Homo sapiens: one gene and its partners. The protein of the gene in region 3 interacts with the protein of the main gene of each other region in a pairwise test. Each region holds a gene or a part of one and is shown on either strand. Other genes may lie near its edges. The genes, in order: NPAS2, NDE1, ARNT2 and RFX6.

Region 1 (8,325 bases), on a different chromosome or scaffold from region 3:
GCGTGAAGGCCAGCTAGCGCAGATGGGCGGGCCGCAGGTGGCTAGAGCAACCGGTGTACTCTCGGGGGATGCAGCGAGATGCGCCATCTCTGACGGCAAACCGACCGACGATGCCTACACGGGGCACCTGGTTCCTGTCCAGTATGGCTATAGAGTGTGCCCAAGAACCTCGGAGGCAAGAGAAACACGGTCAGTATTCCTGATCATTTCCACTGCAGCAAGCGCTGCACTCCAGAGATGGTTACCATCCAGGAGTTCTGAAACGTATGCAGTGTGCACAAAAGCCAGGGGTTTAGTTCAGACTCCTCTCCCCATCTCCTGTGGCCACCCCCCTCATCCATTGGTTAAAGCTGATTGTGTCCCGACTTCAGTGCCGGGGCATTATCGGGGCGGCTGCTGGAGGCCTGACGACTCAGACAGACTGCTGACCCTTCGGGGAGGACGTAGGGGCTGGGGCTGTGCTGGGGGTGGTTGGGGGTAGCCCAGGGTCCCTGGCTGTTGTGAGTAGGTGGAGAGAAGTAGCGAGTCCTGCTGCTCACTGTGCAAAGAGGTTGGTGCCTGTACCTAGAAAAAAAAGAACAAAGGGCTTCAGAGGTGGTTCTGATGTCCGCTCCTCAACTGTCTTACAAGGCAGTGCGGGGCATGCTGCAGGTTGAGTTAGACTACAGGGCTGTCTTTCTTGGGGGGTCATGTGGGGAGAGGTGGCTCTGGCAAGACCTGGGGGTGTGGTGGGGATGGGGACTAAGGGAACCTTAGGGTGAATTCTGAAGCTAAGTTCTCCGCCAATAGTGGGGGCACCTTCTGGCCCAATCGACTGAGGCCTGTGGCTATGGCTATGGGGAATGGTTTCGTAAACACGTGCACATGATCTACATGTAGCCACAATGTTTTTGGATGATGGAACCTGAGGCCACATGCAGGTAGTTGACAGGGCAGAATCCAAACACACATACAGTTTGTACACTTTTCACTGCTGGTCCCTGATCCCGTAGCTACCTCCAGATTCACCAGCACCTACTAGGAGCATCTTGATTGGAAGTTTAGAAGCTTTGACTGACCAAAGCCTGACTTTGGAAACTTCAGTCTTATCACCCACTATTCCCTTCCATGAAATCTCCTCCTGCAAGTAACCCAGCACCCCCCTGCTCTCAAAGCTGCCCAGGCACAGCTGCCCTGAACTTTTGCTCAGGCTGTCTGGCTGGAACACTGTCCCTTTATCTTCACCCTCACCCACATTTCGGGCATTTCCTGGACATCAGACTCTGCAGTGGGTGCCTTCTGAGCCCTCCCTCTCCTCAAGTCCCTTCCTCCACAAAGGCTTCCCCACCACAGCACTCCCACTGTTCCCAAATCCGAGCCTGACTGCATTCTGTGCTAACCCACCTCTCTGCACCCCACCCCAAGCCCCTAAGGGCAGTGAGTGGGCCGAAGCGCTCTCTGTATTCATAGCCTGCATCTTGTCTGCAACAGGTGCATGCAAACTTGTCTGTTGCTCATTTCCCATCCAAAATCACTTCTGGGTCTCGAGAACTGACAAGATCTGCAAAGCCAAAGTCTGAGTTGACTCCCACTATGTGTGGGGTCAGGGAGATCTGAAAATTATAGCACAGATGGCTTAGCGGCACTGGAATTAAATTACGTTCTAGAACTTCAAGGACAGCTATCTTCATCACTATCTACAGTACTCAAGAGGTCTCAGCTACTGCTCATTCTCCATGGCTTTGCAGGTGCAGGTGGGGCTGCAGGCCAGGGAGGAAGCCCCCCCAGGACAGGGAAGGGCTGGGGTGAAGAGGGGCACCCTGCACATGGGTGAGGGAAGGCCAGGCCCTTCTGCAGCTTGGCAGACGCAGACGTGTGGCTCCCACGTGAACCTGCGGACCAGTGGCTCTCACCCTCCCTGCTTTTGACATACTTGGCACTTGCTTGAAGTAATTTTTGCCTTCGAAGTAGTGACCACATGTAAATGAGCTCCAAATTTTCCTGGCAAGCCCAATTTCACACATCACTGTATTTATGAAGGCAGGTTAATGGATCTTTAACTAAATGTGATTTAACTTTATGTTTATATAGGACTTTATAAACACACTGAAAAGTCCAACATAGTCATCAATGTTTTTCGACTTTTGCTCTAAAAACTGTGAACATATCAAGATGCAAATCCTTGAGTAGAAACTACTTTTTTAAAAAAGAACCTTTTTAGCACATAACCACATAAGGCATAATAGCCGACTCGTAATTTCATGTACTCTGTAGACATAGACTTCATAAACTTTAAGCATGAAAAACAATCAAATAACAATCTTTCTGGGGCTTACTTCTATACTAGGGATAGAACAACCTTGAAAGCAAGGGAATAAAATATCTCTGAGACTTCGGGTGTGGAGCGTGGCCCGGCTCCCAGGCCTGCACGGGGGCCCCCTGGGCCGTGGCACCCACCTGCAGGTAGTGCTGCGGTGGCTGCTGCCGGGCCTGTGCAGGCTGCAGGGGCGATGGTTGGGAGGCAGGGAAGCTGGGGTGGAGCACCGCCTGCCCCATCAGCAGGACGGGCATCGGGGCGCTGCTGCTGTTGGCGGGGTGTGCGTCTGGATTTTGAAACACGGTCTGGCTCTGGGCGTACCTGTTTCACGTGGGAAGGAGAAAACAGGTCCTTTAAGAAAGCAGTATTGATACGACACCAAAAGCACGAGCAACAAAGAAAAAACAAATAAGTTGGACTTCATAAGAAACTTTTGGCCAGGCGCGGTGGCTCATGCCTGTAATCCCAGCACTTTGGGAGGCCGAGGCAGGCGGATCACAAGGTCAGGAGATCGAGATCAGCCTGGCCAATATGGTGAAACCCCCGTCTCTACTAAAAATATAAATAAAAATTAGCCAGGTGTCATGTTGGGCACCTGTAGTCCCAGCTACTTGGGAGGCTGAGGCAGGAGAATAGCTTGAACCCGGGAGGTGGAGACTGTAGTGAGCCGAGATCACACCACTGCACTCCAGCCTGGGCGACAGAGTGAGACTCCGTCTCAAAGCAAAAAAAAAAAAGAAACTTTTGTCCATCAAAAGACACTATCAACACTATCAACAGAGGGAAAAGGCAGCCCACAGAGTAGGGGAAGATATTTGCACATCACATATCTAATAAGAGACCGATAACAGAATATATAAAGAATGCCTACAACTCCACAACAAGACACCCACACAACCCAATCAAAAAATGGGCATTGGGGCTGACATTTCTCCAAAGAGAACCTGGAAATGGCCAACACACACATGAAAACATACTCAGCATCAGTAGCCATTCCATTAGGGCAAAGCAGATCAAAACCAAAATGAGATGTCCCTTCACACTCATTACAATGGTGATTATCAAAAAACCAGGAAGTAACTTCACATGGCCGGGAGGAGATCGAGAACGAGGGGGAGGGGCTACACACTTTTAAACAAACAGATCTAGGGAGAACTCTATCACAAGAATAGCAAGGGGGAAGTCCCCACCCATGATCAATCACCTCCCACCAGGCCACACCTCCAACACTAGGGATTACAATTCAACAAGAGATTTTGGTGGGGACACAGAGCCGACATTTAACACAGTGGCTGCAGCACTGGACAGTTCCCACCAACAGAGCACTGAAGTTCAAGTGATTCTCCTGCCTCAGCCTCCTGAGTAGCTGGGATTACAGGCACGTGCCACCACACCCGGCTAATTTTTGTATTTTTAGTAGAGATGGGGGTTTCACCATGTTGGCCAGACTGGTCTTGAACTTCTGACCTCAGGTGATCCGCCCGCCTTGGCCTCCCAAAGTGTTGGGATTACAGGCATGAGCCACTGCGCCCAGCCTATTTCCACTTATTTGGATCATTTAGGAAGAACAGGTAAAATCCAGAAGCAAAACCAGCCCACTTCCTCCCACCTAATGATAGACATGAACGGAACTTTACAGATGGCTCCCCACAACCTGCAGGTCCCTCCTTACCCTCCTGTGACCAAAGGGAGGGCCAGAAAGTCTCAGGGGCAGAGGCTGCCTAGAAAGTTATCCTGAGGCATAGGGAGACCCCAGACAGGGCCAACAAGGTGGACTTTGAAGATTCAGGGAGCCCAAGGGGCCCGTGGCCTGGAGTTAGCTGGCCTCCAGCCCCACCATCTGCACTGTGTGGCCTTCGAGAATGTAATCTAACCCCTTTAAAGCCCAGCCTCTTCACTGGTTTAAAAAACAAACAAACAAACAAAAAAAGACCGAGCATGTGCCTACACCCTAGGGTTTTTATCGGGATAAAATTAAATAATGAACATACAGACCCTGACCCTCAGAAAGGCAGTAACCATCTGCCGTTACTCTCTGTCCTGGCTGAAGGAGGGCACAGAAGAAGGACTTCTAGGGAGAGGGGCCTGGGGGTGCCTGCGAGGCTTCTACATGAGGGCATCCCAGGCCTGATCGGCTAGCACTGTCCTGGTTAGTTCTGGACACAAAGTCAACCAGTGTTAACATGAAGGAGATGTCTGTGTGATAGCTCTATTTCTGCCTCATTCCCAAGGGCTAGAAACTGTTTTCCAGCAGCTTTTAAACTATTCCCCGTGTCTCCAGTAACCGTTGTCCCTAGTAATTAAGTAGCTGAGTAAAGCTGCTTCTGGTCCTACCGGTGCTAGTGGAGAGGAGGCTGGGGAAGGCAGAGAGGGGGCTGCTTGTCTGGGAGAGACGGGCCCGAGCACGGTGCCAGAAGCACGGAGCACCAAGTGTGCCTGCGGCATGTCAGCTGGAGCCTGGGGGAGGGTCCTTGGGAAGGGGGATGTCTCCAGGGGTGAGGGCTTTAGAGGGCTTTACAGGTGTAAGGAAGTCGGAAGATGATGGCAAACGGTGGGGTGTGAATTGTTTCATTCAGTGCTGCTGTAAGCATGGAGCGCTGAGTTTTTTCTGCTTAATTGGGACACGGTAGAAGAAAAGCTGAGGGGCAGCGTCCCCTTCACAGCTGTGGGCACACTCAGACCTTGCCTTTAGCGCAAGGCTCATGTGAGTGCTGCTGGCCCAGGCGGGTGAGTCTGGCCAGCCTGGAACCATTCCACCAGCGCTTGCCTCCTGCCTCCCGCCAGGGTCCACGTACTTGACTTGCCGTCCCGTCCTGCTGACTTCCGAGGGCTGCCTTGCGTCACAGGACCCGGGCATCATGGGCTGGATGGGCTGGCTCAGCAACAGCCTTTAAGCAGAGGTGGGGAAATAGGAAACTGATCAGCACCTGAACCACAGACCCACTGGTCGTGGCAGCACTTGCTCAGCCTGGCTGGACCCTTTATGGTTGACTCTAATCCCCACTCTCCTGGCTTCATTCTCTGAGGATGATGGACGCAGCGGGTAACCTCCCCTGGACCTCAGGATCCCAAGCCCTGTCCTCTGCTTCCTTAGCTGAGATCAACTGTGGACACTTTAGAATCTGTCTGAACTCTGCCTCCGTCTAAAGCAGAAAGTAGAGCTGAAATGAATGGGGTAAAATGATGCCTGGGTTATCCTTTAAACAAGGGCAGTCTCGTACCTGAGCTGCCGATCATGGCTGAAGTCTGGGCTGGGCTGGCACTGGCTGGCATCCTGGGAGGTGGAAGCAGGTGTGGTCAGATTCAGACTTGGCGGGAGCGCAGCTGTGGCGCTGCTGAACGGGGACACTAGGCTGCTTCCAGAGCGGCCGCTGCTCTGCATTAGCTGTGAGCTTCTCATTGGCTTTGGACCCTGGAGCATCATTTCAATGAGAAAGGTAAGACTTGGACTCAACCCTGGGCCATCTCTCCAGGAAACCTCCCAGTGTCTCCTCCTTCTACCTACCCTTGCCTTTCCTCTAAATCAGAACCTCCCAACTACTGAATTACTTTGATCTGTGACTGTCTTCCCCATTGGATTGTATTTGAATCCCTTGGGCCTAGGACAGTGCCGGACTCTAGGCAGGCAAGTAGCAAATGTGCCTTGAACTGAACTACTTTCTGCTTCAAATTCTACTGCAGACACATGGCCCTCCTGGCTGTTTCTCCAACTCACCAGGCCTACTCCTGCCCTAGGGCCTTTGCACGAGCTGACTGCTCTGTAGAATGCTCTTCCCCTGACATTGACATGGCTCATTCTTTCACCCCCTCAGGTCTTGACTCAAATATTATCTTCTTCAAAAGGCCTTACCTGGCTACCTCTTTACACCTCCAGCCATTCCTGGCCCTCACCAGCATTCCTGTACCATTGCACATACTATAATTTTCACATGTTCGTCTCTCTCCTCACTTGGAACAGAAATTCTTTTTTCTTTTTTGTTCACTGCTTTCCCTCAGTGCTCAGAATTTAGTGCCTGGCACGCAGGGAGCTGAGTGAAATAATAAATGAGTGAGGAAGTGGGCTTGCACCTGCTTTGGGTTTTCTGTCTATTTCACTGATTGTCCATTCATCCGATAACACAGTGCTCTCATTCTTAGTTTTTACAAAATTTTCCAATATCAGATAGTATAAATCCTTCCTCAGTTTTCTCTTTTCCAAAATTTTCTTAGCTCTTCTCACCTATTTTTCTGATGACCTTTTAAATCAAAAGGCTGTATTTTCAAGCAAAACCCTTACATTTGAAGAAAGATGGCCTAAACACTTCCATATGTGTGTTTATCTGTATTGTACTGCAGGTTATCTAAGTTCCCAGATTCTCTACTGGACTACAGGCTCCTCGAGGCCCAGGACAACTCTTGCTCATCATTGTTCCCCTGGGTCTTGGTGAATTCCAGGAGCTCAGCTGACTTTACCAAAGCCACGAGGGCATGGGAATGTGAGGCTGGAGGAAAGGCTGCCTTCCCATCTGTTATCCTCCAGAAGCCCTGCTCCAGACTTCTGAATTCCATTCCATTTGAGTGCCATTTATCTGCTGGCGATTTTGTCCAATTGCAAGGTCACTGGTGGCTTGGAATAGGTGGAAATGGCTACAAGGGTTTGGCAAAGAGTCTGGGGGGCCTGGAGGAGCAGTGGGGGCCTGGAGGAGCAGGGGGGCCTGGAGGAGCAGGGGGCGCCTGGAGGAACAGGGAGGCCTGGAGGAGCAGGGGGACCTGGAGGAACAGTGGGGGCCTGGAGGGGCAGGGGGCGCCTGGAGGAGCAGAGAGGCCTGGAGGAGCAGTGGGGGCCTGGAGGAGCAGGGGGACCTGGAGGAGCAGGGAGACCTGGAGGAGCAATGGGGGCCTGGAGGAGCAGGGAGACCTGGAGGAGCAGTGGGGGCCTGGAGGAGCAGGGGGCGCCTGGAGGAGCAGGGGGCACCTGGGGCAAGGGACAGTGAACAGCAGTGGCTGCTCATGTGGGTAATGGTTAAAACCAGAGTAGATGGCGGGGACCATGGACGTTGAGTGTTGGGACATTCAGCTGCCAGTGGGTCTCTGGGATGGCCATATCTGCCTCCAACCCTAAGTCAGCATCAAAGGTGAACATTTCAGCCGAGTGATATCTTTAAGCACGAGAGCAAGGGACTGAGGTGGACATTTATAAAACACAGAAGGAAGCCAATACAACTTGGGGTTTCAAAGTGACTTTAACAGAAGAAGGAAAAGAAGGCTCACTCCCAAATCTACCCTCAGTCCATAACGGAACAGGGCAGTAGGCCTCAGTTCACGTAGGCTGCAGGAATCAAGTATGTCCCAAACTGCAAGAGGGTGTCTGCTCTAGAGGCAAGGAGTGAAGCTGGCAAGGAGCACATTTACCTGGGTTGATATCACACTTGATTCTCTGAGCAGGTGCTGGCTTGTGACCTGGGCAGAGGAGATCTGCCCTGGAAGTTGGGGGCCCGCCCCGAGCTGGGGCTGAGTCACTGCAGCTGACCTTTGCTGTAGCTGCTGCTGAGCCTCAGGTCGCTGGGTGCTGCTGAAGCTCAGGGATACAGCTGGCTGCTGCAGGAACATCTGGGAGCAGAATAGAAATGCCTGTGAAGTTGGGGTCATGGGTACCTCACCAGTGTGCACCTCCTTTGCATTCCCTGTGCCAGTAAGAACTTTCTTGCTCTGAGCTGCCTAGAAATAGTTCATTTACTCCACTGGTGGACATGGAGCACCTGTGATGCCCCAAGCTCAGTGTCAGGCACTGGCCACAGAGCCATGGGCTGGAGAGACACTCTCTCTGCCTTCATGAAGGTTACAGGCAAGTGACTGAGGCCTAACAATGTGAAAGCTGTTTAGACCCAGATGTTCTCTAAATAATGTGATGTACTTGTTTAGAGTCGAGGTTGGCTTACCAGCTTCTTCCTAGAAGGGAGAAATACCTGGTGAGTGGAATGCATGATGCAGTCATGATAATATTGCCTCATGATATAGGGGCAGAGGGATGGCTCACCTGTGGCATGGGC
Region 2 (8,325 bases), on a different chromosome or scaffold from region 3:
ATCGTATTCTAGCCTAGGTGACAGAGTGAGACCCTGTCTCACAAAACAAGACCCTCTCTCTAGCCCTTTGTTCAAGCCACAAGACACCACCTAATGCTGCCTGCAGGGAGCAGAGGAGAGGATAAGGTTTGCTGAAATAATCCTATAATTTAAAAAGACACATGGCTGTGGGCTGGGGGTGAGTGTCTCTTGCCTGGGGCAGGCGGGTTCTCCCCGCCAGCGAGAGGTTTATTAGAAGGTACTGACCCCTTATCACCCAAAGGCACGCTGGTGCTGCTTGGCCGTCTCTCCCCGCCATCTCTGTTCTTGCTGCTCCGCCCAGAGGCTGGGCCACCTGTTCGGTTTGGGGACTGATCGTACACGAGGTTCCGGCAGGAAGCGAGTTTGGACTCCAGTGCCTGGACAGAAATACACTTTTATCTCTCAAGTTATAGGCAAGGACTATTCTGTCTTACCAGAGCCTGTACAGAAGAACGAACCCCAGACAGTGGTTCTCAAACTGTTGTGCACTGGAATTCCAAGGTGGGACCCCAAGAGGAATCCAACGTATATGCCAGTCTCAGAACCAAGCACCTTAAGTATTTGGGAGCTGGCTGGGCACAATGGCTCACACCTATAATCCCAGCACTCTGGGAGGCCAAGGCAGGAGGATGGCTTGACATCAGGAGTTTGAGACCAGCCTGGGCCACAAAGTAAGATCCCATCTCAGTTTTTTTTTTTGTTTTGTTTTTTACTTTTTTAGACGCTGTGTCACCCAGGCTGGAGTGCACTGGTGAGATCACAGCTCACTGCAGCCTCAACCTCCCAGGCTCAACCAATCCCTCCCACCTCAGCCTCCTGAGCAGCTGGAATTATAGGCATCCGCAATCATGCCCAGTTAATAAAAAAAATTTTTAATGCAAAAAATTTTTTTTAATTACGAAAAATTTTTTAAAATGTTTGGGAGCTGCCTGGAAAAAGATCACGGCTCACTGCAGCCTCAACCAATCCTTCCACCTCAGCCTCCTGAATAGCTAGGACTATGCACAATCATGCTTGGCTTAAAAAAAAAAAAAAAATTCTTTTTTAATTACAAAAAATTTTTTAAAATGGGAGCTTTCTGGAAAAATCACTAACCTACCAATTATCCAACTCCGCTTGTAGGAAGTAGGAAATCCACTTCTGGAATCCTTCACCCTTTGGTTTACCTTGTTAAACCTCTGCAGAATGGCAAGAAGTTTGGTAAGGACTTGGTCTGGCTACAACAGACCCTGAGGAAACCAAAAGGACACTGACAGCACCCCAGGCTTCTCTATACTCCAACTAGGCTAAATACTGAAATGCAGACCTGCTTCTAGAATAGCAAACCAGACAGCCAAAAACCAGAAGTAAAAACAAAAGAAATGAGTTGCAAGCTTCTATTAAGTTGTAGCTACAAATACACTGTGTACAGTGACAACTTGGTAGGAGTTAAATTATGTGGCCTTCTAGGCATCATTTTTAAAAATAAACTACAAAGAATACCTATGTTTTTACTTAAGCACAAAAGGATCCCTCCCTGTAATTAACATAAAAGCTGAAAGGCCAAATTCTTTGCCCTAGGCTTTCAAGATTTTTTTTTTTTTTTTTTTTGAGACCAAGTCTCACTTTGTCACCCAGCGGTGCGATCTCAGCTCACTGCAACCTCCGCCTCCCGGATTCAAACAATTTTCCTGCATAAGCCTCTCAAGTAGCTGGGATCGCAGGTGCCCACCACCATTCCTGGCTAATTTTTGTATTTTTAGTAGAGATGGGGTTTCACCATGTTGGCCAGGCTGGTCTTGAATTCCTGACTTCAGGTGATCCACCCATCTCGGTCTCCCAAAGTGTCAAAATTCACTTAAACCCCAAGAAACAAACCAAAAAAAAAAAAAAAAAAAAAAAAGGTGGCAGTTTTTTTCTCTTCTGAGACAACGTCGTGCTGTCACCCAGGATGGAGTGCAGTGTTGGAATCTCAGCTCACTCAGCCTCAACCTCCCAGGCTGAAGCAATCCTCCCACCTCTCAGCCTCCTGAGTAGCTGGGACCACCAGTGTACACCATCAGGCCTGGCTAATTTTTGCATTCTTGTAGAGGCCAAGTCGGGGCAGGGGGTTTCACCATGTTGCCCGGGCTGGTGTCAGACTCCTGAGCTCAAGTAATCTCCCACCTTGGCCTCCCAAAGCACTGGGATTACAGGTATGAGCACCCGGCCAAAAGAGAAGGCAGTTTCCAAGTGCTCCTTAATTTTTCGAGTTAAGGAAAAAACACACATATCACCCTAATTTCCCAAATTTCCTAGAGGAAAAACGGTAAAAGGAAAGAGACATACATAGGGTTCAGAGCAGGGCTTCGAGTCAGAGCTCTGAGTGTCTGGCAGTAACTCCCACAGGAAGCTCTAATGATTCCCAGGGATGCTAAAGGAGCAGCCACACCTAAAACTCACCACACTGCTATGAAAGGGGCTGGACGCATTGGCTCATGCCTGTAATCCCAGAACTTTGGGAGGCCAACCTGGGAGGATCACTTGAGGCCAGGAGTTTAAGACCAGCCTGGGCAACACAGCGATACCCACATTACTACAAAAAAATGAAAGTATCAGCCAGGCATAGTGGCGCACACCTGTGGTCCAAGCTCCTCGGGAAGCTAAGGTGAGAGGATCGCTTGAACCCAGGATTTTGAGGCTGCAGTGAGTTGTGATCATACCACTACACTCCAGCCTGAGCAACAGAGCAAGACCCTGTCTCTAAAAAAAAAGAAAAAAAGAAGAGAGGGAAGGAACTAGATCAACCCCCTTCACACATCCTGAAAGACAGGCAGGAAGGCACCAAACGCCAGGAAAGTGTGGTCTTACCCCGACTTTCCGCAGTAGGTCTCCCACAATGTTGAGGGCTGATATCCGGGCCGCAGGTGTGAGGGGGGTCCCCCCGGTGGAGTCGTCCAGGCCTGGGTGTGCAAAGGGAAGAGCATGTAACTCACCAACCTATAGTCATGTCTGTGCGTTAACATCGCTAGATCCAAAACCACGGGACAGGAGGGACACTGACGCCTTTCCTCGGATCCCAAAAGCTACCCTATTTCTTTCCGTAGTTAACCGCATCACACACCCAAGGCCCGTATGACAACCAATTTTTCAAGTCCTTGTGATGACTGCAACAAATACTTATTTTTACATGTTAGTCTTGCTCTGTCACCCGGACTGGAGTGCGGTGATGTGATCTCAGCTCACTGCAACCTCCGCCTCCCAGGTTCAAGCGATTCTCCTGCCTTGGCCTCTTGAGTAGCTGGGATTATAGCCATGTGCCACCACACCCGGCTAATTTTTGTATTTTTAGTAGAGACAGAGTTCCATCACGTTGTCCAGGCTGGTCTCGAACTCTTGACCTCAAATGATCTGCCCGCCTTGGCCTCCAAAAGTGCTGGGATTACGGGCGTGAGCCACCATGCCTGGCCTTTAACAAATTTTTTTTTTAATAGAGACAGGGTCTCACTATGTTGCCCAGGCTGATCATGAACTCCTAGTTTCAAGCGATCCTCCCACCTTGGCCGCCCAAAGGGCTGGTATTTACAGGCATGAGCCACCGTGCCCAGCCACATTAGTCTTTTTAAACAAACCCAAAACAAATCCTTTTGAAATTGTAGAAAATCCATATAGTTAATTAACATAATGGCATCTGTGATAGATACAAGAACTATAGACAGGATGATCCAGCTTTACAAGGGTCCCGCTCTGCAGAGCCTCTCTTCTCCAAGTGGGGTCCATGCACCAGCAGCACATGAGAACTGTTAGAAATGCAGAATCTCTCGGCCAGGCACAGTAGCTCACACCTGTAATCCCAGTGCTTTCAGAGGCCGAGGCAGTTCGATCAGTTGAGGTCAGGAGTTCAAGACCAGCCTGGCCAACATGGCAAAATCTTGTTTCTACTAAAAATACAAAATTAGCTGGGCATGGTAACAGGTGCCTGCCTGTAATCCCAGCTACTCGGGAGGCTGAGGCATGAGAATCGCTTGAATCCAGGAGGCAGAGGCTGCAGTGAGCCAAGATCAATGCCGCTGCACTCCAGCCTGGCCGACAGAGCAAGACTTTGTCTCAAAAAAAAAAAAAAAGAGAGAAAGAAATTTCAGGCCCCACCCAAGACCCACTTGATCTGAGGTACATTCTACCAAGATCCCCAGGTAAGCTACATGCATATTGAAGTGTGGAAACATAGCCAGGCATGGAGTTGCATGCCTCTAGTCCCAGCTACTCAGGAGGCTGAGGCAGGAGGATCACTGGAGCCCAGGAGTTGGAGGCTGCAGTGAGCTATGATTGCACCACTGCACTCCAGCCTGGGCCACAGACCAAGACTGTGTCTCTAAAAACAACAATGAAATAAAGTATGCAAAATGGCTCTAGACTGGGGCTAGGCACAGTGACTCATACATGTAATACCACCACTTTCAGGGGCTGAGGCAGGCAGATCACCTGAGGTCAGTAGTTTGAGACCAGCCCGGCCAACATGGTGAAACCCCATCTCTACTAAAAATACAAGATTAGCCAGGCATGGTGGTGGGCACCTGTAATTCAAGCTTACTCAGGAGGCTGAGGCAGGAGAATCACTTGAACCTGGGAGGAGGGGGTTACAGCGAGCCAATATCGCACCATTGCACTCCAGCCTGGGCAACAGAGCAAAACTCCATCTCAACAAAACTAAACAGAAGGGCTCTGCACCGGAATTCTAGAAGTCTCACTGGTCTCTTCATGCCCAGGGGACAAGCTAAGGGATAAGGTAGTAGATGGTAGGGTAAGCCCTGGAGCCTGCCTGCCTGGGTCTGAATCCCAAACCATCTGCCATTCAATTGCTTCATGACTCTGCTTAACTCAGAGCCTCACTTTCATCAAACGGGGACAGCACCTGCATCCTGGGCCTGCGGCGAAGGCTGCAGGCTGGCCAGCACACACTGAGCACTCCTTAACTGTCTGTTATTAATATCTGCTGTAAAAGGCCTGATCGGAAGCTGTCAGCAGAGGGGCTGGGGTGAGAACTGAGATTCTTTTTTTCTGCCCATGCAGCACACGTTACGCTGAGTCTAGCTCTCGGTGGATGTATTACTAAACCCACAGAACGCTTTTTACTTTTTTGTATTTGGTCAGTGACATTTCAAATTTGGGAGGTTTTATATTCAACAAGAGGATTTTTGACCAGGCGCGGTGGCTCACACCTGTAATCCCAGCACTTTGGGATCAGCCGAGGTGGGCGGATCACTTGAGTCCAGGAATTTGATACCAGCCTGGGCGACATGGCAAGACTGTGTCTCCACCTAAAATACAAAAGTTAGCCAGGTGCCTTTAGTCCCAGCTACTCCGGAGGATGAGGTGGGAGAATCACTTGAGCCCACGATGAAGAGGTTGCAGTGAGCCAAGATCACGTCACTACACTCCAGCCTGGGCAACAGAGTGAGATCCTGTCTCAAAAAAAAAAACCCAACAAAAAAAAAGAGGATTTCTGGCTTTGAAGAATGGAAAAAGCTGCAGATGAAGGGCCAATCCTCGTAGCTGCAGAGTGGCAGCCACCCGCTCTGGGTGGGGTTTCCATTTCATCAGACTCCACTACTGCCTCTTACCCAGTCCTCACTGATCTCAATGCCCATCCCCAAGAACATCCCAGTCTACTCTCTGCTCAAAGCCTGAGAGCAAATCAGGCTCTGAGCCTGATGCAAATCATCACACCCCCAGGACCCACCCCAGATTCTTACCCAGAAACACTTTGTGAACCGAGAAAATCCTGCAATTCCCACTCCCCTTACCACGTCTGAAGCTCCCAGGTGTGTTTAAACTTGAGCTGGGTCCTCGGTGAGCAATGGGCGTGGACGGCACGGAGCCCGTGGCCTGCACAGCTGTGTCTGTCCTCTCAGCTTCCACTGAGCTGGGCATGGGGGTCCTGGGTTTCTCCTGCTTCTGCTGCACGGCCAGTTCCTGCCGCAAATCTGTGCCAGAAAAAGGATTCAGGAATTCAAGTCCTCAGCCAGGCGCAGTGGCTCATGTTTATAATGCCAGCACTTTGGGAGGCCAAGGCAGGTGGATCGCCTGAGGTCAGGAGTTCGAGACCAGCCTGACCAACATGGTGAAACCTCATCTCTATTGAAAATACAAAAATTAGCCCAGCATGGTAGTAGGCACCTGTAATCTCAGCTACTCAGGAGGATGAGGCATGAGAATCATTTGAACCTGGGAGGCCAGGGTGGCAGTGAGCTGAGATTGCTCCAGCGCACTCCAGTCTGGGTGACAAGAGCAAGACTACGTCTCAAAAAACAAAAAGGGAATTTAAGTCCTTGCTTAGGGTTGGTGGGGTGCAGGGAGAGAGGTTCAACAGTAGATACCAGTCAGAAAAAAGACCTACTGGGGTGAAACACTCCAGGTAGAAACCCCAAATAAAGGGAAACCCACAGGACCTTGCCTAGCAGACTTGGAACTCTACAGGATGTTTCTCTTGACTAACAAAATGGTTTCAGATTTTTAAAAAGCTATGACAGTGACACACTAATGCTTTTATTATTGAAAAAACAATTCCAACATAGCAGTGTATTTAGAACACTAAATGAAAATATGCCCGGGAGCAGTGACTCATGCCTGTAATCCCAGCACTTTGGGAGGCTGAGGTGTAAGAATCACATTAATCCAGTAAGTCGAGGCTGCAGTAAGCCATGATCATACCACTTCAGCCTGGGCGAGAGTGAGACCTCTGGCTCAAAAAAAAAAAAAAAAAAAAAAAAAAAAGAAAAAAAAAAAAAAAGGCCAGTTGCACTGGCTCAAGCCTATAATCCCAGCACTCTGAGAGGTCGAGATGGGAGGATTGCTTGAGGTCAGGAATTTTCAGGCCAACATGGCAAAACCCCGTCTCTATTAAAAATACAAAAAATTAGCCATGCGTGGTGGTGAGCGCCTGTAGTCCCAGCTGCTTGGGAGGCTGAGGCAAGACAATCGCTTGAGCCTGGGGGACAAGCAGTGAGTGCAGTGAGCTGAGATCACGCCACTGCACTCCAGCCTGTGTGACAGAGCAAGACTGTCTCAAAAATAAATAAAGTATGCTTTCCAGACTATCCCCAAATGCTCCTCCTCACTCATCATCACCATAACATGTGGGAGAGCTTTTCAACCATTGTTCTCTGAATTTTTTTTTTTTTTTTTTTTTGAGATGGAGTTTCACTCTCTTGCCCGGGCTTAAGTGCAGTGGCACAGTCTCGGCTCACTGTAAATCTGCCTCCCGGGTTCAAGTGATTCTCCTGCCTCAGCCTCCCAAGTAGCTGGGATTACAGGCACGCACCACCACACCTGGCTAATTTTTGTATTTTTAGTAGACACAGGGTTTCACCATGTTGTCCAGGCTGGACTCTAACTCCTGACCTCAGGTGATCCACCCACCTTGGCCTCCCAAAGTGCTGGGAATACAGGCGTGAGCCACTGCGCCCAGCTGTTCTCTCCATTTTCAAACATAAACTTTATACATATGTATGTATCTACTGAGCATAAAACAAGAAAATTTTTTATTAAGCATTACTGGAAACATACAATATGTTGTCCTGTGTATGACTTACTCTCCCCACTTCAGTGGTATGTCTTGGCAATGATTTTTGTTTTAGAGACAGGGTCTGACTCAGTCACCCAGGCTGGGGTGCGGTGGCACAATCATAGCTCAATGTAACCTTGAACTCCTGGGCTCAAGTCATCCTCCCACTTCAGCCTCCTAAGTAGCTGGAACTACAGACATATGCCACCAGGCCTAATTTTTACAATTTTCATTTTTGTAGAGATGGGGTATCACTATGTTGTCCAGGCTCATCTTGAACTCCTAGGCTCAAGCAATCCTCTTGCGTCCGTCTCTCAAAGCACTGAGATTACAGGCATCAGCCACTGTGCCTAGCCTTGGCAATCTTTCTACCACAACATTTCTATCTACTGTTCATTTTAACCATTAACATTTCACAAAATACATCTATGTACTTCATTTAACCACTTCATTACTGATGGACATCTAGGAACAACTACTTTATTAAACTTAAGAATTTTTACTTTTTATCCCCCACCTACTGGTTACACATTAGAAAGCAAATCGACGTTATAAATAATTAATTGGGCCAGCAACAGTGACCCACCCCTATAATCCCAGCACTTTGGGAGGCCGAGGCAGGCAGATCGCCTGGGGTCAGGAGTTCAAGACCAGCCTGGCCAACATGGTGAAACCCCATCTCTATTAAAAATATAAAAATTAGCCAGGCATGGTGGTGCACACCTGCAGTCCCAGCTACTCAGGAGGCTGAAGCAGGGGAATCGCTGAACCTGGGAGGCAGA
Region 3 (4,728 bases):
CAGGGTATGGTAACTAAACTTTATTTCCTTTATTCCAATATCGCATTGCGGGTGAACATGTTAGGGATTGTAGGAATGAGATGGGTAGAAATTTGAAGATTCTGGGGCACTGGGAGGGCACTGCAGAGAGCCCTGGGCACCCTCGATGACCGAAGGAGGGAGAACTGTCACATTGGAGCCTGCTGTCTAGCACCCTGCCACCACTCGTGTTCCCACTCCTGTTTCTCAAACCACCATACAAAGCACCTTCTCTCTCGTGTAAAATTCTAAACAGCCAGCTGGGTCTTGAGCCCATTTCTTCAGCCGTGTGGCTGTGGGTGAGCCTGTGGGTGAGACGACTCTGCTCACCATTCTGCGGTGGCAGAAAATCATGCATTATTGCACCTGCTGGCCAGGGGCTGAGTGTTTTCAGTGTTAGAGGAGCTCAGTCTCTCAAAGAAACCCTAGTGGAACGTCAAGGCACACAGATCCAGGGCTGTTCCCTGGACATCACCTGCTGCGGCACCTGCTGGGTGAGGGTGGCCAGGGGTAGCTGAGTTCCAGAGTGGGAAGAGCACTGGGCTTGCATTCACGCCTTGAGCCCTCCCTCGCCGGCTCATGACTTTGGACAAGCTACAACTCACTTTTCTCATCTGTAACAAACGATAGCAAACTTTTAGTTTCTGTTTGCTCCCTTAATCAGGCACTGTCGTAAGCACTTAGGTTAACTCACTGAATTGCCACTACAGCCTTCTGAGGAAGATACTTTTATTCTCGCCTTCTTTCTGTTGGGAAACTGAGGCAGGGGATGATTAAGTAACAGTCCAAGGTTGCACCTCTTACCTTGGAGATGGGATTCAGACCCAGAGAGCTGAGATAAGAGTCCATCCTCTTCGCTGTTACCCTGTGCTTCCTCACCCAGAACTAGAGGACTTGGAATCCCTACACCGCAGGGTTGGAAAGATTGGATAAAATAATGTCTGAGAAAGAACTCTCATTAATTTTTTTTTTTTGAGGTGGAGTCTTGCTCTGTCGCCCAGGCTGGAGTGCAGTGGCGTGATCTCAGCTCACTGCAGCCTCCGCCTCCTGGGCTCAAGCGATTCTCCTGCCTCAGCCTCCCGAGTAGCTGGAACTACAGATGGCTGCCACCATGCCTGGCTAATTTTTGTATTTTTAGTGGAGACAAGGTTTCACCATGTTGGCCAGGCTGGTTTTGAACTCCTGACCTCAAGTGATCCGCCTGCCTCAGCCTCCCAAAATGCTGGGATTACAGGTGCAAGCCACCATGCCTAGCCTCATTAATTCTTTTAATCTTCCCCACTCTCCAAAAAAGCCTTGCCGTCAAGCAGCCTGTGGCCTAGCCTAGGGGTCAAGAACAACAGCCCAGTGCCTTCATATGCCAGGGAGGCTCCAGGGGAGATGAGGAGGCAGAGGCAAGGCTGAGAAGATTGCGTGCAGGCGGGCTGCCCTGACTTGTGTCCTCCCGTTCCCACGCCCACCCCTGCACCTCTTCTTGGGGCAGCCTCCTCTGTGGTCTGCAGAGCAGGGAACCTTCGCATGTGACTCCTGCTCTGGTTTTCCTAGCGGAGAAGAAGATGATGAGCTCAGCCTCTGCAGCAGGAACCCAGCAGATCTACTCCCAAGGAAGCCCATTTCCCTCTGGACACTCCGGGAAGGCCTTCAGGTATGTGCCAGCGAGGGGGACAATGGCGTGGGAAGATGCTCCCTCACCAAGAAAGCCCTGGGTCTCAGAGCACAGCTCTGTGGGCTGTAAGCATGAGTTAGTGGTTACTGGCGCTCAGGCCTTGGACTAAACTGAGGATTCTGGTGGCTCTGCTTCTGCTCTGTGAGCCCTCTATGAGTTGCCATAGATTCCTGGTGTCAGTTACTCTTTCTTGGATGTGAACAGCACCAGCCACTGTGTTCTGTGGCAGTGATTGCCAGGGAGAAGGGAGTGAGTTCCCTCTAGCCAGGACCCAAGTGAGCTGGAGCTGGGAACAGCTGACAAGGTAGCAGGAAGTATCCTGTCATCTGGTGCCCAGAGGCTACAGCCAAATCCAAGGAAGACTGGTCAGCTCAGCCCACCACGTCTGAGCCTCATCCTAAAGGGCACTCAAGGCTTCAGGCAGGGTGTCCAACCTTCCCAAGGGTTGGTTCTTAGCATCAAGGGCATCTGGTAGGTCACTGAGGAAGCCCTGACATCATCACTGGAGGCAAGGCCTGGCTCCACTGACTTCTGGGGAGACAGAAGCATCAACTGGGAAGAACGGTCAGAGAAGAGGCTGGCAGCTCTTGGGGAGGGTATGTGGGCACTCACCTGTGCCCACCAGACACCCTAAAGTTCCTCATGCCCAGCAGGGCAGGGCTTCTCCAGTGAGGTTGGCCAGACCCTAAGCAGAGCTTCCAGATGCAGAGGCCAGGAGGGCAGGTGGGGCCGGCCACCCAGAGAGAGGCCCCTGCCACGGGACTGCCCTAGCCACAAGGAATGAGGATTTTGCTTCCACACTGGTTCAAGGACAGACCTCCTGGAGACAGATTAGCAGACATTGCAGGGGCTCTGGCCACGCCTGCAGCTGAGTCTTGCTGAATTGCACACTGCTCTGAGGCTCTGGGGAGCCCTGGCTGCAGGCAGGGCCTCTGGTCTGGGGACAGCAGACAAGATGGCAGCCCTCTGTGAGCAGTCCCTAACCATCATCACCGCAGGTCACGCTGCTCTGCTGAGCAATAGTCAAGCCCTCCAGACTTCTCTTGGCTGCTGAGTTACTCAGCTACTCAGCACGCACTGACCGATCTCCGTTGATGCCAAGCCCTGTGCCAGCCCTGCCTGGGTGCTCATGTTCATGGGGTCCTTGTGACACTTGCTGCTTGTCCTCCACTCTGGACAAAGGGGATCAGGGAGAGCACAGCAGCAGGAGGTAAGGAGGGGACAGTTCAAAGGCAAGGGGACAGCCCAAGGTGGCATGACCGGAGAAGGTCTGGCTGACTCTTCAGCTAGGCCTGAAAGCAAAAGTCAGGTTCTGCCTCCTGACCAGGGCAGGGGTGCAAGGGCCTGAGGGGTGTGCTGAGTGAAGCCTTGGAGGAGGTGTTGTTGGAGGAGGCCTCACTAATGGGAGAAACAGAGGATGACCACGTTGTTCTATGACAACGGCCTCACACAGGCTCTGCACCTCACACTGGACTGTCTGCCCTGAGCTGTGTCTGCAGCAGCAGCCGTGGGGACCATGCTGAGGAGGAGGACACCATCACTGATGACCTTTGGGAGAAGAGTGAAGCTGCAGACAGGGCTCAGGGCAGACAGTCCAGCGTGAGGTGCAGAGCCTGGGTAACGCTGTTGTCATAGAAACAAAAATGTAGGGTGCACAGGGCAGTGATGAGTGATGGGGAAGGAAAAGCAGGTTTGGGGCAGCTGGCAGTGTGGGGAAGGAATCCAAGGAACGTCCGAACACCTGTGCAGAGCCTGGCATAGAAAAGGCACTTGCTGAGTACTAGTCTGTAAAATGAATGAATAAATGACTGAGTTAATTAAAGGATGCCTGTTAGGGCTAAAGCCTGTGGAATGGGCAGAATTTCCTGTATATCCGAAGGATCTGAGCTGGCTTGGGATGGGGTAGGCTGTGGGATGAAGGACTCTGGGGCCCAATACAGCCATAGGGAATCCTGGGCCGCTTGCAGAATGGTGTTGCTGGCACCTGAAGTGCATCCTCACCCACAGTCCTCCCTCTCTGGTCCCGCCAGTTTTGGCCCCTGCCTGTCCACACTAAGGCAGGCAGCTGTAGCCCAGAGGCCCCCAGGGAGGGCTGTGCACAAGGGCTGGCGCTTTGCCCCAAGAAGCCCATCCCTTTCTGCCAAGGCGCCTTTCCTAGGACCGTCTACGCTGTAGCGGCCCTCATCAGTCAGTGTTTTGGGGAGGACACCAAGGGCTGGGGGCTGTGGAGAGGGTCCTACTAGACAATAGTGACCAGAAAATGTCCTCTGAAGCAATACTTTCATCAGGAAGGAGAATGGGAAAGGAGCCCTTATGTTAAATGAGGAATTGATTGTATGAAGACAGAAATGATGTCCCCTTTATATAAGCCACTGAACTTGTTTTACAATGATCAGCTCAAGAATGTCTCTGACATTCTTGGTTTCTCCCTATTTTAAAAGGGATCAGATAGCATAGGAAACTTATTAGAATACAATAGTAAAATTTTACCCAATCTCTGCTGATCTCTGGCTTGCCTTTTTTTTAACACGGAGCTGAAAATCTACCAAAGCCTTCTGTGATGAGCCCCATTCTGCCCTACTTGACTGATTCATGGGCACCCAGCGCACTGCCCTGCATGCTGAGCTAGTCCCAGGGAGGCAGGAGGAGGGGCCTGAAACAAAGTAAAAGTCTGCCCCCAGCCTTTTAGTCTTTGATGAGCTTCTCATGTAATCGACATAGCCTGGAAAATCTCCTGGAAGAAGCGCCTGGTGGTACAGACAGTGCCTGCCGAGGAGCTAAGCAGGGTCAGAGATTTAGCCTGCAAAGGCCATGCAGAGAGCACGGCACACAGCAGGGGCCTAATAAAGACAAACTGAGTTAAGTCGAAGGTGAACTGAAGGTGGGAGGGGTAAACTCTGGGTAGCAGGACTAGGCCCCATCCAGCAGGTTTTCATTGAGAAGCTTTTCTTTCCGTTTAAAACTGACAGCCTGCAACCTATTTCCTGAATCCTTAAGCCTCATAGGTGCCCCAAAGGAACAAATTAACCAGAGCACAAAAGAGT
Region 4 (8,325 bases), on a different chromosome or scaffold from region 3:
TTGGAAGTTCCATACATACATTGGGATGAGGAAGAAGGAATTGGGGTTTGCAAACTGGAAGCTGTAAGGGAAAATATAATCAGCAATTGAAAATTGATTGACATTTTCTTTTCTCTGCAAATGCCACTCATTTTAATACCCTGTATTTATTTTTGCACTTAGCACACATACCTATTCTAAATTTGAGTCTGTATGGTTTACCAGAGCAATCATTTTTTCTTCCATTTGTTCCCACTTGCTAGTCTCCCAGAAATTATTTCCTCTACATATTTCACAAAGAAAACTCCATTTCAACTTAAGTGCTACCGCCAAAATATATCCCCCAATCAACCTCCTCTTTCCATCTGCACTTTCACGGTTGTAGTTCAAACCACCATCTTTTCTCTCCTGGACCAACACAGCAGCCTCCTGACTGGTCCCATGATCTCCACCTTTGTTTCACCCACTCACCTTCCCGAGAGCAACCAGAATGATATTGCTGAAGAGTAGATCAAACTTTCACTCGTCTCAAATGCCATAGTGGCTTCCGATACCCTTGGAACATGAACCAAGCATCTTACCCTATGTAGATGGGCCCCTGATTTTTTATTTATTTTGCTCTACTCTCTCCTTCATTCAACATGCTTAAGACACACTGGCCTGCTCTCTGCCCATTGATTTTTTCAAATTTATTCTGATTTCAGCGGTTCTGCATTCACTGTTTCTTCTGCCTGGAACTCCTCCCTCAGATCTTCACATCTTTGCCTCCTTCTCATCACTCAGCTTTCAACTCAAATGTTTCTGCCTCAGGATTCCTTTCTCAGCTGTCCTACCGAAAGCAGCTCCTCCTTTACTGTCTGTCATTTTACTCTATTTAATCAGGTTCAGAGTACTTGACATTATCTTTTTAATGCATTTGCTCATGTATTTATTGCCTTACTGTCCCTCTACTAGAATGTAAACTTCTTACAGGCAAGAACTATGGCCTGATCACCACCATATCCTCACATCTAGAATGGGGTCTGGCTCCTAGTCGGTTCTCAATAAAATTCATTAACTGGCTCACTAGCCCTGTATTTCTCTCATATATGGTTGCTGCCTTCTTATTGCTGACATGACGTGCTCTCTGTCTAAGAACCAGGCTTTATACTTAAGAAATAGTTGAACTCAATTCTCCTTGCACTACTTATCCACTTATTCTATCCCCTCATTTTACCCTGCAGCACACTTTGTAATCTACTTGTAAGCCAGCTCTGATAAACTAAAGCTTAGACTCCACCCTACTCTTAACCTATGTTTCGTCAAAGCTTCCACTATCTCTTCAGGTAAACAGAACTAATAGTAACAATAGCAACACAGTACATTTTAGTCTCATGGTGAGAAAACTTCCTGAAGTGGAATTTTCTGCTTCATTAGAGTAACCTAGAAGCAATGACCATTTGCAGATAGCAGAAGATGAGCTGCTAGATTCTGCTCAGGGAGCATGTGTGACAGTGACAGGAAGAGAAGGAGTACTTCCTATTGAATTATTGGGAAGGTACACTGAGTGAGGAGAGATGAAATTGATTTCATTTTCCCTTATGCTCTGGTTGCGTGTCAATGCCCTCTACTTATGCTAGTCTGAAATCAATCTCATTGGAAGACTTTAACCATCTCATATAAATATTAACACTCTGCTTTGATACTTAGTGAATATATACTTGCCCTGTGAAATCTTATTAGTATTTTTAGAAACTAAATCTATAGTGACTAAATCTATGTTATTACTAATAACATACTAATTATTATTGCAGAATTTCTTCATAGATGAGGATTAAGAAATGTAACCTGGTTGGAAGAAGATTCCAGGAGGCTTCACGGCAAGCACACGTTTTTCTTATTTTTACTTACATGATATGTTAGAGAGCAATAAAAATGGCAACATTTTCTACAGAGGTGTTGAATCACATTTTACATAAGAATGAGAAAATGCTAGTAGCACCCATCACAGGACACCAGTTTTTTTTAATCTTGGAGTGATTTTTGGATACTGATGGAGATCATGAGGCCTAAAGATATCTCTTGGCACTACAACTGGGTCCAACACTAATCAAGAGTGAGAAAAGGATATTATTACTGCCCTTTTAAAACTTACAGTTTTAGACTGCATTTGACAGGTCATATTAATCTTTTGCATACTTAATAGATACCAGCTATTTTTTTTGTAAAAAGTAACAGATCTAGCAGTAGGTTGCATAATAGAGATATACAGAATAAGAAATGAAAAACTGTTACTAACTGTGTAGTCAGATACAAAAAATATAACTTTAGATCCAAGGTAATAAATCAACCGTGGAAACATGCTTGCTCAGTTCACCTCAGCATATCTCCCTCAAGTAATGTTGCATACCTGAGGTTAACAACTTCTTAAAATGTTTTCAAGAACTGCTAAAATAATTTACCTAGGACTGGAGTTCGACATGCAACTGGAGATGATGTGTCTGTGTAAAACGAGCTGGTCTGTTTTCTACCACTGTCATCTAAAATGTTAAGTGGATCGTGGATGTCACTGTAGGGGGGCAGTGAACGAATGCTGCTGATGACAGAAACGTGCTGATTCACCATTGATCCGAGCCTGTGAGACTCTGGGTAGTTTATGTTGCTTCCATAGTATCCTGTAACAGAAAATGTTGAGAATTTGCTGTTAACTTACTACAAAGAACTTTCAGGAAGGAAAAAAGTGACAAAGTAATGAGGTGACGTCCTAAAGATATCAAACTGTAAGTATTACATGTGTATCTATACATGCTACAGAACTGGATTTGTGCTTGTACATGGATAAGGTTTACTGTGCTGTTTTTTGTGTTTTTTAACACATAAGAATTGTAGCATCATACATAATTTAATACAATAATTATAGCATAATACATAATTTAAGACATAAGAATTGTATTAACTTTAAGACCAGATTACACTTCTGTCAGATTTCCCTTATCTAAATTAACAAGATCTACCTTTGAAGGAAAAAAAGCACTATCGCCTGTCACAAAAATACTACTTTCATGTATAGATGCATGTTTAGGGAAGACAAAGACTGGCCTACACTTAGGAGAAAGACACCAAAGAAGCCTACACACAAAGCCTATTTTGGTGACTCAAGGTCACAGGTCTCTCTAATTCCCTTAACTTCCTATTTTTATTGGTCTGTTTTGTTCCCAATCTTTAAAATCTGCTTTTAGTTATCAGGAAGAAATATTATCCACTAAAAATGTTTTCAAAAGACAGAACATTCTTCTTTGGGGCTATTAAGGTAGGTCTCAAACATATGATTTAACTATCTTTTTTTTTTTTTTAACATATGCGGTATTTAGGAGGACAGCTTTAGGCCGGGGGTGTTGGCTCACACCTTTGGGAGGCACCTCAGCATTTTGGGAAGCCAAGGAGAGAGGATTGCTTAAAGTTGGTAGTTTGAGACCAGCCTGGGCAAACATAGTGAGACTTTGTCTCTAGAAAAAATTTAAAATATAGACAGGGATGGTGATGCATGCCTGTAGTCCCAGCTACTTGGGAAGCTGAGATAGGAGGATTGCTTGAGCTAGGGGTTTGAGGCTGCAGTGAATCATGATCCTGCCAAGCACTCCAGCCTGGGCTACAGCATAAGACCTTGTCTCAAAAAAAAAAAAAAAAAAAGGAAGAAGGGCAACTTTAGGAAAGCCACAAAAATTAGGAAATATATATGTATGTGACAGAAATCAGCTCCAAATGTCTAAGATTCCATGATCTTTGGAAGCCTTAAATGAAAGGACATGCTAGTCAGCAGAGGTGGAACGCAATGTCTGATTTTGCCTCATTGCCATCTCAAAAACCAAGAAAAATTCTTTTAAATATCAATACCATTTGGTGAATTAGGAGGCAGTGTTGCTCCTTGGCAGCTGGCAGCTCCTGTGTTGCTCAAGAAATTGAAGCTTCCTGTATTTAAAAACTGCATATTGTGTGAATCCTGGGCTTGCAGGGATGGGCCATAGCTAGACGGTGGCCGGGAGTTATATGGAGACCCCGCACAGCTGCCACTGAAGAAGTCTCTTGAAAGCTGCTGTTCAGTCCAAGCCATGCATCGACCATGCTCGGTGTGATGAGGATAGAGTCCTGATGTGGAGTGGGGCTGTGCCCTAAACACAGTCTGGTAGTTAGAGCTGGTGCTATAAAAGTCATGATTGGCTTGAGGGAGAGTGGGATAAATGGGCTCTGGGTATGTGGAGCAGTGTGATGGAGCTGACAGTACTGGGCCCACACTTGGGGGCCTCCCTGCCATTGGTCCTTGGTTAATGACACTTCCTCGGCTTGCCATGGCTGGAGAAATGGGTGGTGTCATCAGATGACCAGCAATCTGTGAAAGCTCCATTTGACCTGGAAAAAATCACCAGAACATTCCTTTAGTGTCATATTAAAGTAGATGAGCTCACATCTTTAAAAAATATTCAAAAGATTTATTAATGTATTGTTTTCCAGCTTGCTTCATTCCTGCCCTCCAAAAATAACTAAACTGAAAAGCACCAAAAATCCAGAATTTAAAAAATATAATCACAACACATGTATATATCACAACAGTGGAGACGTGGATTTGGTGACTACAGAGGAAAGTCTGCGATGGCTTCATGGTTTCTCCACAGGTAGCATGGGGAGGACATGTGTGTCTGCTGCTCATATTTCCCCATAATTAAAAAATTAGCTGATTGTTAAACTGTTTGATTTTTAGGGTAAAAAGAAAAAGTCACTAATGTCAAAATGGCCATGGCTTCAAAGCAGTCAATTCAAAATGTCATGCAAACACCTCTTATAAGTAATGTGATTTATGAATGCCACCAACTCTCTGGGCCGCCAGTGTTCCATTGGTAGAAATGGACTCCTGAACTATAAGGCTCTTCTAGGTTTAAAATTCTGTATATCAAATGAAGTAATGTATATAAAAAGATTTCAAAAAAGACACAAGGCAATAAGCAGATTTAAAATATTCCCGAGTAGCTAGTTCAAGCCACCAAATATTCATGTTGACACAAAGAGAACCTTAGACCAAAAGGGAGAATTATTGTAACGATTATCCTAAAATGGCCGAATCCAGTTTTTTTGTTTGTTTGTTTGCTTTTTTGATATGGAGCTTCACTCTCGTCACCCAGCTGGAGTGTAATGGCCTGATCTCAGCTCACTGCAAGGTCCGCCTCCTGGGTTCAAGAGAGAGTACAGGCGCCTGCCACCAAGCCCGGCTAATTTTTTGTATGTTTAGTAGAGACGGGGTTTTGCCATGTTGGGCAGGCTGGTCTCAAACTCCTGACCTCAGGTGCTCTGCTCGCCTCGGCCTCCCAAAATGCTGAGATTACAGGCATGAGCCACCATACCCAGCCCGAAACTACTTTTTAAGGGAGGAGAAATAAAGTCTCCTCAAAATCCAGAAATAAGCAACCCATTTTTTTGATCTTCAAAGCATCTTAAGAATTTTATGTATACCTCATCTAATTATTTCTTCCACTAAATTAACTAATTATTCATACTTCTAATATAATTTATGGAGTGTGTCAAGACATGATACCTGTGTTAATAACAGTATTATTACCATTGCTGAAAATCACAAAAATATTATAAATCTTTATTAAAACTCAGTTAAGATCATCCTTTTTTATTGTTGGAATTCCTGGACTGGAAGTTATGAGTTTTAAGAAAAATGAAGCAACAGGCTTCTCTGAGATGTGCTGGAGCCTAAGCAGTTCTCTTTAGCGTACCTGTGAGCGGCATGTTGTCTGTGTTCCCAGCAGGGAACTGGTGCAGAGCAGGGCCTAGGCCTCCAGGTTGACTGGATGGCAGAGGGAGATAGGTTGTCTCCACGTGGCTTTCATTCTTCACAGCGTCGCTGGAAACCATGCTCCCTTTATTACGGTTGGCCAGAAAGCATGAACTCGGAGAAGCAGTGAAAGCAGCTTTACTCGCATCTGGAAAGAGTTTTTAAAATGGGAAATTTGAGATTTTTTCTCACATTCCTCGTAGATAAACCCAAGTAAAAAGAAAATGAAAATGTTTCATTGTTGAGTATTTAATCTGGAAACTACTAAGCAATGTTTCCCATGGGAAGTGAGGTTGGCAGACCTTTGCTCTTGACAGTGATGCTAGGTTTTTTTTAGCTGCATATTTGCGGATGTGGATGTAGATAAGGAGCACTAAATAATCCAGTTTGGAGTGAAGTCTTCAAAATGCAAGTTGCCCTATCCTGAATAGATGTGTTTCCTTCCTTCTCTAAACTCCTATAGAACTTATTTTTACACCACTTACATATGTAGTATACCACATGTGTCTTGAATTACAGTTATTTTTTGTATTATAGTCACTTCTCCAACTTCACCTTAATTCCCAGAAATTAAGATCACCAATTTTGTATACTTCAGAGTTTCCAGTAAAGTACTTTTGACTACATAGCAATGAATGAAAGAAAAGTAGTGCTCCAATAGTGTGACTGTATGGTGAGAATTAGTAATGACATGTTTGGAGAAAAACTCTGAGATTATGATAAACCCACTTAATATCTGAACTTATAAATTCTTGAACTTAAGATTAAAACAAAGAAATATGCAAAACAAAACAGTTATTTTAAGTTACCTGAATTCTTCATATACTTGTCCAATAAATTCTGTAACTCCTGCTCTTTGTCATTATTAAACTGGGTCTCCATGGCCAGGAGAATGTATTCATCGAGAAGCATTCGAATCAAATGAAAAGAACCTTGTTTATGGATGGAGAATGAGGAGAGGACAGTGTGAAATGTAAAAAGGGGAGAGAAAGAGAAGGAAAGGGAAAGAGAAGTCAGTTATCTTTGTGACCATCTCGCAACACTTTACAAGGAGCAACTGAAATAAACAAATACTTGTTGGACTTTAAATGACCTGCTAAGACCAACATGCTTAACTTGGATCTCTAATCTTTCTGTGTATTGCCTGCCCTGCTCACTGTGTGTACTGTCCTGCCAGCTCTTTGGCCACTAATTACATCAAAGGAAAATACGGATGAAAGTGAGACATGCTTTATGCTTTAAGAGGGCACACATTGGAGTGTGATAAGCTTCAACTTGGGGAGAATGAGCTCTACTCTGCTCTATTTCTGTTTACTTTGTACTAAATAATTAGACAATGGCCAACATGGTCTGAAAAAAGTCAAGTAAAGAGATATCTTTCTAGCCTGAAACAAAATATTCTTAGATTTGGCAAAAACTAAAAGAGTAATTTTCAAGTGAAATATGTTCTGGAAAACTAAAACTTCTTTTAACTATTCAATAGATTTTCCAACAAAAGTATTTTTCGTAGTAAGGCCAGGCTTCAATGCTGTATATTTTATAAAACTTTAAATATGGGAAGTCTATTTCAAATAATAGACAATGTGTTTTGTTTATTCTTCAATACAAATTCACTGATTTTATTTAATTCTATAGAACATTAAATAAAAACAATTTAGTTAATTGTAATCTCTTTCATAATGTGAAGATTTCCTGAAATGCAGCTACCAAATGCAGAGTTACTACTCATGAGTTAACATTATAACTATAAAATAGGAGTCTCAGGAATTCTAAGGAAAAAGAAGGCATTCAATTTTATAAAAAGCTAACTTAACCCTATTTGTCTCCCAAGTCATATAGAACAGGAAAGATGGGTCAGAAACATGACAGTGTGTCTTCTAAGCTGTTTTTTGATTCCTGGAGTGCAGTTATATGGGTGCTCAGAAAAGCTGCAGAAATTTGCCGTATTGCAATGAATAATAACTTTGGAAAATAATGTCTTAATTATCATTTGTTTAACAAAGAAAATTTATCCAAGCACTGATGGAATGTAATGATAATAGCTGCTATGCATTAAGCATTTCCTGAGTGCTAGGCAATTTGTTTTTATATACATCATCTCACCAAAGTACCTATACAACCCTTCGAAGAGAATATTCTTCCCCTTCTTCAATGAGCAGATTGGCCCATAGCCAGAGACAATCATTGTTAGGATTTAATCCTGCTTATGGTCTGACTCCAAAACCCAGGCTCATAAATACCATTTTCTCATAGCTCCATATTCAGATACAGTTTAAGAAGTGATGATGTAACATGTTTAAAAATTGACAGGAACTGTGACTGAGGAACAAATTATATAATTCATGTAAGAACAGTTTTATAATGCACGTATGTTACCAAAACTGGATGCATTGTTCAAGGTGAGATTATGCATTACTCGAGCACCAAAAAAACTCCACTTTAACAGAAAGTCTTGAGCTCTCTTCTTTAATGACCTTCCATTTTGTTTGCTGGTCTAAAAGTAAAGGAACAAAATGAAACTATAAAATCCGTCC

The links.
Region 1: the proteins of ARNT2 (region 3) and NPAS2 interact in a two-hybrid assay, tested with the Homo sapiens proteins (one large-scale study listed by BioGRID and IntAct).
Region 2: the proteins of ARNT2 (region 3) and NDE1 interact in a two-hybrid assay, tested with the Homo sapiens proteins (one large-scale study listed by BioGRID).
Region 4: the proteins of ARNT2 (region 3) and RFX6 interact in a two-hybrid assay, tested with the Homo sapiens proteins (one large-scale study listed by BioGRID and IntAct).

Annotation. Positions count from the first base shown.
Region 1 is NC_000002.12:100,987,639-100,995,963, reverse strand, and holds part of NPAS2 (neuronal PAS domain-containing protein 2), read right to left. Parts: intron 7,886-8,325; coding exon 7,688-7,885; intron 5,709-7,687; coding exon 5,518-5,708; intron 5,185-5,517; coding exon 5,092-5,184; intron 2,618-5,091; coding exon 2,437-2,617; intron 1,541-2,436; exon of another isoform or gene 1,384-1,540; intron 565-1,383; coding exon 382-564; 3' UTR 169-381; coding exon of another isoform or gene 148-168; 3' UTR 1-147. UniProt on the Homo sapiens protein: Transcriptional activator which forms a core component of the circadian clock.
Region 2 is NC_000016.10:15,688,782-15,697,106, reverse strand, and holds part of NDE1 (nuclear distribution protein nudE homolog 1), read right to left. Parts: intron 5,964-8,325; coding exon 5,784-5,963; intron 5,298-5,783; coding exon of another isoform or gene 5,239-5,297; exon of another isoform or gene 4,941-5,238; intron 2,943-4,940; coding exon 2,851-2,942; intron 1,200-2,850; coding exon of another isoform or gene 1,121-1,199; intron 399-1,120; coding exon 247-398; coding exon of another isoform or gene 150-246; exon of another isoform or gene 1-149. UniProt on the Homo sapiens protein: Required for centrosome duplication and formation and function of the mitotic spindle. Essential for the development of the cerebral cortex.
Region 3 is NC_000015.10:80,575,303-80,580,030, forward strand, and holds part of ARNT2 (aryl hydrocarbon receptor nuclear translocator 2), read left to right. Parts: intron 1-1,563; coding exon 1,564-1,663; intron 1,664-4,727; exon of another isoform or gene 4,728-4,728. UniProt on the Homo sapiens protein: Transcription factor that plays a role in the development of the hypothalamo-pituitary axis, postnatal brain growth, and visual and renal function. Specifically recognizes the xenobiotic response element (XRE).
Region 4 is NC_000006.12:116,923,067-116,931,391, reverse strand, and holds part of RFX6 (DNA-binding protein RFX6), read right to left. Parts: intron 8,286-8,325; coding exon 8,168-8,285; intron 6,724-8,167; coding exon 6,601-6,723; intron 5,940-6,600; coding exon 5,733-5,939; intron 4,366-5,732; coding exon 3,853-4,365; intron 2,634-3,852; coding exon 2,421-2,633; intron 62-2,420; coding exon 1-61. UniProt on the Homo sapiens protein: Transcription factor required to direct islet cell differentiation during endocrine pancreas development. Specifically required for the differentiation of 4 of the 5 islet cell types and for the production of insulin.